Homo sapiens: one gene and its partner. The protein of the gene in region 1 interacts with the protein of each later gene in a pairwise test. Each region holds a gene or a part of one and is shown on either strand. Other genes may lie near its edges. The genes, in order: SNCAIP and SH2D3C.

What was found.
Region 2: the proteins of SNCAIP (region 1) and SH2D3C interact in a two-hybrid assay, tested with the Homo sapiens proteins (one large-scale study listed by BioGRID).

Annotation. Positions count from the first base shown.
Region 1 is NC_000005.10:122,318,737-122,322,236, reverse strand, and holds part of SNCAIP (synphilin-1), read right to left. Parts: intron 947-3,500; exon of another isoform or gene 403-946; intron 1-402. UniProt on the Homo sapiens protein: Isoform 2 inhibits the ubiquitin ligase activity of SIAH1 and inhibits proteasomal degradation of target proteins. Isoform 2 inhibits autoubiquitination and proteasomal degradation of SIAH1, and thereby increases cellular levels of SIAH.
Region 2 is NC_000009.12:127,768,667-127,772,166, reverse strand, and holds part of SH2D3C (SH2 domain-containing protein 3C), read left to right. Parts: intron 1-872; exon of another isoform or gene 873-937; coding exon of another isoform or gene 938-981; intron 982-3,500. UniProt on the Homo sapiens protein: Acts as an adapter protein that mediates cell signaling pathways involved in cellular functions such as cell adhesion and migration, tissue organization, and the regulation of the immune response.

The DNA of each region.
Region 1 (3,500 bases):
CTTGCAAAATTTAAATACTGCATGTGCAAAGGCAAATTGACATAGGATATAAATCTCCAGTTCTCTCAGAGGGAGTAGTGATGACTCTAAAACCACTGGAAACAGAAAGTTCATCGTGATGACTCTAACAGCTCCCTGATGCAGGCTACTCTTCTCTTGTATATTTAATGTTCTATATATGTCAGTTGGCCTTGTTTGCAATCTCAACAGGAGGCTTGTTCACTGGACGAGTTTTTGTTTTTGTGTTTGGTCTGTCCTGTTTTTTTGTTTTTTTTTTCCATGTTGTTGAATAAGACTTATGATTTCACATACTAGACTGCTTATAAGTTCTTCTAGTATTTGGTATTAAAAGAGGTGAAACAAAAACTAAACAAGGTGTATACAGTCTCAATACAATTCTAGGTTAGAAGCCTAGATGTGTGACTGGAGATGCCTCCTGTCCATTCAATCTGACTCCAATGTGGTTCTGCAGCACTGGACAAAGATGGGAGATTGAAACAGGAGCCCCTGCGATGGGGGAACAGAGCCAGGGAGCAGGGGTTGGACAGGTAAGCCTCCATATACCAAGCCCTTCAACTCCTGGAGTTACAGTTATCCCTCCTTTGTTCATTAATGATTCACCATGTACCCACTGCCAATGGTGGGCTTTCTAAACACTGCACTCTACATGAGAGATAGAAAGATGACAAAGACATATTCCCTTCCCTCAAGAACCCAGGTTTGAGAAAACAACCTTGTGAACCTTCTATTGGAGCAGCAATAAAGATCTGAGCTAAGTGTCGAGGGAGGCTGAGGAGGTGGTCACTAAGTCTGTCTTAGGCATCCCAGGGTCTCCTCAGAGTCCAAGCCTGAAGTCCACTGCAGGGGTCACCAGCCACCTGTGGCCACATTGGAATGTGGCCATTCTGAATTGAGGTAAGTAAAAAACATACACCAAATTTCAAAGATGTAATATGGGAAAAAAAGAATGTAAGGTACTTGGTTAATGATTTTTTATATGGATTACATATGGAAATGCTACCATTTTGGCTATATTGGGTAAGATATATTATTAAAATTGATGTCACCTGTTCCCTTTTACTTTTTTAAGCGCGCCTGCTATAAAATATGAAATTGCCTGCATGGCTCCCATTCATGGATCCTATTACATTTCTATCTGCCAGTGTAGGTTGGTGCAGTCACAAGACAATGCTTCAGGAGAAAATCTGGGGAGGCGGTCTCAGGGCAAGAGGGTGAGTGGGGGAAATGCCTATGGAATGAGAAAGAGACAACAGGGGGACCGACCCATCAAGGGCTACAAAGAAGGTGAATTTGCTTTCTGAGTTGTGCTTGCCTGCCGGACTCATTTGCAGCAAGAGAGACCAGAATATAAAGGCCACGATAATAACATCTCAAATAAATTAGAAGCAGCTTGTGGTTTATAGTGAGCAATGCTCTACTGGGGACCAGACCAAGCAGTTACCCCTGTCTTCACTCCATCTGTGGTTAAGTCATTTGGTCACTGTTGCCTTCTCATCTGCAAAGCGGGGACTGAGATTAACTGCTTGGCCTGCATATCCCCCTGACTCTGTCAACTAAGTTTTCGGAAACCTGAAGCACTCTAAACATCCTGGGGGAAGAAAGGGCTGGAGAAACATACAATGTTTTGTGATCAGAGTTTTTAAGCTGAAAAGAATGAAGAAACTTGAATAGAATAAATTCTTGATACTTCCTTTTTCATAACACTTACCACGCTTTATTTCGATTATTTATTAGCCCCCTTCCTAGCTAGATATAAGCTAGCTATAAATACCATGAGCTCAGGACCCACATCTGTCTGCTCACTGCTGTGACCGCAACTTAGAGGACAGAGCCCAGAATACAGGCCTCAATAAATACTGTGGAAGAGGGGTCACATGGAGAATTTGCAGTCATTTTTGCTGTTGAGCATCTGTTAAGTTAAAGTTTCCAAGTGTGCAAACTGTACTCGGAAATGAGTAAGAAGTAGAAACTTACCTAGAGATGATCAAACCAGTAGTGCTGTCACTCTAATGATGTTATCTGTCCCACTGTGAAAACATTGTCACAGGTGAAGGAGGAGAGTGAGGTGAGACCTTCCCAGCCCTTGACTGCTCTTGCACTGGACACATTCCAGGAAGCTCTTGTGGCAGAAGCAGCCACTTAACTTACTTTTAACAAGAGAAGCTGAAGGCTGAGGGAAGTCAGGACCAACAGAGGATCCAAATTTCAGTGGCACAAGTCTTAAGCTTCATTTGGTTGCATGAATGAGTGCGGAAGCAGCATGAAGTAGTGGTGATACAAACCTGGGTTCTGTGTTTAATTCTATTCTCAGTACTTTCCCAGTGGGAGACTGTGAGTTCCCTCTCTGAACCTCGTTCTCCTCCATGGCTTAAAACTGGACTCATAATGCATGGCTTAGCTATAATGTACCTTTCAAAAAGGGCTGGCATCCGGTAAACACTGAATAAATGGTTACATGTCAAACACAGTAAACATTCAACAATGGCTAATATCTTCCTTCTGCATCAGCTTTTAAAACAGATTTTTTAACCTGGAGTCCAAGGAGTCCCAGGAAATCCACAGACGAGATTCAATGGATCCTTGAAATCCCTAAAATTAAATACAAAGCGGGGTATGTGTGGACATCTTTTCTCTTCAAGGAAAGAATCCATAGCTTTCATATGATGCTCTTAAGACTCTCAGACTGAAAACAGTTTAAGAACTATTGAGTTTCTGTGGCTTCCAAAGTGTTTAGCTCCTTCTATTTATCTATGGAATAGCTCTGTGAATGACTCTCAAAACCAAGCTTTTCTGTGCCTCCTCAAGAGGCCTGCATTTTATATGCAGCAGTACAACTTCCTTCCATAAGACGCTTTTATTTTCTGGCAGCAGCAGTATCACAGGAAGATGACTGGAATTTATAAGTAAGAAACTGATCTTAATTTCAACAATAGTACTGGAGCCCTTACCTCTTTAAATACACCTTTTTCCATAGTTTTTTTTTTTATAGGATTGATGACCAAAGAAGGCAGCTATAATGTTTTATTCTCAAGATGATGGTTACTCATCTTAGAATAAAAACAACAACAACAAAAAATAACAGATGAATGGGAAGAGCCCAATCAAAGCTTTATTCTACTCCTCAACAACTCAGGTGAGTGTCTGGCCACTTGGCAGTCGCCAGGAGGAAGGAGCTTAGTGGCAGACAAACTGCTTCAAATCTCTAAATCTTTGTTTCCTCATCTGTTAAAAAAAAAAAAAAAAAAAAAAGATGATAACAGTGACGCCTCCTACCTAGGGCTGCTGTGAGAACTAAATAAGAAAGTAATTGTAAGGCATCTTTTAAGTACTCAAAACAGAGTGCCTCATAAATATTAATTATTAAATATCCTCTCTGATGATAGGGGGAAAAGGATTCCTTATCTGGTCTCTGACCCATAGATTTTAGCCTGGAGATTTACTCTGGGTCACTGATATTTTCCAGCCTCCTCCTTAAGGTT
Region 2 (3,500 bases), on another chromosome or scaffold:
TCTTGAGCAGCTTTTTCCTGAGACACCAAGCACAGCCTCTGTCTCTGAGCTGTAATTGCCTAGACCCCTGATCAGTGAGGAGGACCATGTAAAGGGGTAGAGTGAATCCAGTCCAGATTCTGCCTCTTACTGGCTGCATGACTGGACAAATCTCTTCCTCTCTTGGAGCCTCAGTTTCTCATCTGATAAATGGACGTAACAATAGCATCTACCTGGTCGGGTTGTGGTGAGGATTCAAGAATAACATACCTGTAAAATCTCAACACAGTGGCTGGCATGCTGCACTCAGTAAATGGGAATGCTGTATTTACGATTAGTAGAACTCATGTTTTTCCACCATCCCCGGCTGCCTTCTGTCATCCCCTCCTACATTCGTCCTCATTCGGGAGTAAAGGACCAAGGATTGTATGTAGCTGAGAGGGCCTGATGATGGGTCCTGGGGCGTTCTAAGACACCCCAAGGTATGAGACTGCACCAGGAGCCTGGCCCCTCCCACCCAGGGAAGCCGAGTTTCGCGGGAGCGGGGCGGGGCGGGGTGGGGCGAGGCGAGGCGGAGTTGAGGGCGTGTCTAGGGGCGTGGCCTACCCCAGGCTGCGCGGAGAGCTGCTGGGGAAGCGAGCGTTGGAGCCGGGCGGGCGAGGCGGAGGGGTGTGCTAGGGGGCGAGGCCTTCCCGACACTGACTGATGGGGAGGGGGCGGAGCGAGACCGCAGGCGGAGGGCCGTGTTCGAGGCGGAGAGCGTCCTTCCCTGCCGGTGGAGTAGGCGGTGGAGTGGGGCCGGGCAAGGAGCGCAGGGGCGTGTCTGGGGGCGTGGTCTACAGGTCAGTCTCCGCCCCCGGAGTCCGGCACTGAGCTCTGCAGCTCAGTGGCCCGAGAAAGGCAGGAGCCGCTGGGTTTAGGAGGTCCCCGGGTTGCCGGCGGCGACAGCGGGGGAAGCATGACTGCTGTGGGCCGAAGGTGCCCCGCGCTGGGGTCCCGAGGGTGAGTGACCGAGCTGGGCCTGGGGAGGGCCAGCGGGGAGCAGGAGAGGTCGAAGGAGGAAATCTGCACCCCTGGGGCAGCTGACAAATTTGGGGGCGGGGTTAGCATCAGGGACTTTTCTAAGCCAGTTTTCTTTGGGTGTAACTTTGTCACCGCAGGTCAGGCATCTGCTTATCTACTCTACACAACAGCCCCAGGAGGGAGGTACTACTATCACCCCCATTTTATAGATGAGGAAAGAAAGATTTGCCTGCCGAGTTTGACACAGCCAGTGAGCGTCAGAACCAGGGTTTAAACCCAGCTTCCTGGCCCATGCTCTTAACACCTGGGCAGCACATTCCTCTCCAGCAGGGCCAGGGCCGCTGAGAAAGGTGGTCTTGAGAAACCTTGAGAATGGCAAGTCCAGGACCCAGCCCAAGCCTTCTTCCCCTGTGGACAGAGCCCTGGTGGGCCTAACAGTGCCTCTGGCATCATGCTTAGCCAGGAGCTGACCAAGGAAATGAAGAGACTCTTCTCCTCCAGCATCTGGAGTGTCCCGAGGAGGATGGGGTTAGCAGACCAGATTGAGCCCCCTTCTGGTGCCCCGGGACCCAGTGCTCCATCTGCCCTCCAGGGACTGTTGAACATTCCTTCCAGAAGTCCCTGAACCTCAACCCTGTGCCCTGGAGTCAGGGGAGCAGCCTGGCCCATGAGATCTCAGACTAGCCCTGCCCCATTCTGGTCCTTAGTCTCCCCAGTAGCCCAGATGGGCCTGAGATGGTCTCTGAGGATCCATTCAGTTTGGGGAGGACATTTGGGAAATGCCAGTGAGCAAGTTCGGGGGCCCTGTTCCTGAGTGTCTAGAGGAGGCCATCCCAGGCCTAAGCTGGGGAGACAGTGTCCCTCCCCCACCCCGGGGAGACAGGGTGCACCTGGAGCAGGAGGAAGGAAGGGGAAGAGGTGAGGCTGCAGGGGTTTCCTGGTGTCCTGTTCCCTGCTGAGATCATGGGGATGAAGAGGAAGGAGGGAGGAGGGACCTTTAGCTCCCCTGGCTAAAAAAGGAAAGCACCAGCCTAGCCTGCCCCCTACCTCCCAAGGACCTTCAGTCTTCTGCAGGTCCCAGAGAGGCACCCTCCCTCCTCAATCCATCCTACAGAGGAGGAAGCAGAGGCCTAGAGAGGGACAGGAAGCCCCAGCACTCCCTACCCCACGCCTACCCACACTGGAATTGTCAGGCGAGGGTCCCACCAGGCATGATCACCAGCTGACAACCAGCAAGCACCTGACAGGTGTTGTCTAGCTCAACACTAGACTGGGGTGTGAGGTGGGAGCCTCTACTTGCTCCATTTTGCCAGTGAGGAGACTGAGACTCAGAGAGGGGAAGGGACTCTCCTGGGGTCACAGAGAAATTGGGTGTCAGGCCTCACTATTTGATCCCAGGCCTGACTAAGCCCAAGCTCTAAACCACTAGGTCACATTTCCCCTCCTGCAAGTAAAAATCTCAAAGTTTTTCTTTTGTTTTTTCTTTATTTCTTTTTTTTTTTTTTTTCGAGATGGAGTTTTGCTCTTGTTGCCCAGGCTGGGGTGCAATGGTGTGATCTCGGCTGACCGCAACCTCCGCCTCCTGGGTTCAAGCAATTCTTCTGCCTCAGCCTCCCGAGTAGCTGGGATTACAGGCATGCGCCACCACGCCTGGCTAATTTTGTGTGTGTGTGTGTGTGTTTTTAGTAGAGCCGTAGTTTCTCCATGTTGGTCAGGCTGATCTCGAACTCCTGACCTCAGGTGATCTGCCCGCCTCAGCCTCCCAAAATGCTGGGATTACAGGCGTGAGCCACCGCACCCAGCCAGCTTTTTCTACCATTATTTCAAATGACTTCCCATGACTCTCTGGAAAGGAGCCCATTTTACAGATGAAGATGTTGAGATTTTTGTGAGGCTAATAACTTGCTTGAGTTGATGCAGTTAGTTGAATGGGAATGATATTCATTGTCATTTTGACTGAGGTACAGCTATGCCTCAGACACTGTTCTAGGTCCTGGGAGATAGCAGTGAGCATGGCAGACAAAACCCTGCCCTCATGGAGTCCCCATTCCAGGGCAGGGGAGACAGAAGATAGACAAGATAAATGAGTTCTGTGGTCGACTAGAAGAGAAAAGCCTTAACGAGAAAATTTAAAATCAGCTCTAGAATTGGTTGGCGAAAGTGGGGAGTGGCTGGTGGTGCCAATTTAAGAAGGTTAGCCAGAAAGAAAGGCTCAGTGAGGAAGTGGTGTTTGAACAAAGGAGACGAAGGGACAAACCCTCTTGCTGGCTGGGAAGGAGCATACCAGGCCAAGGGAACAGCGTGTATAAAGGCCCTGACGTGGCATGTTTGGGGAACAGTAGAGACCACTGTGGCCGGGGCAGAGCAAGGTGGGGAGGACAGGGAGGGGTGGGCTGGGAGGCTGGGATGGAAATGGGAGCAGATAACGTAGGGCCTGGAAGAGCCCAGCAAGGACCTGGCTTTGGCTCTGAGCAAAACGGGAGCCATTGCTGGCCTTG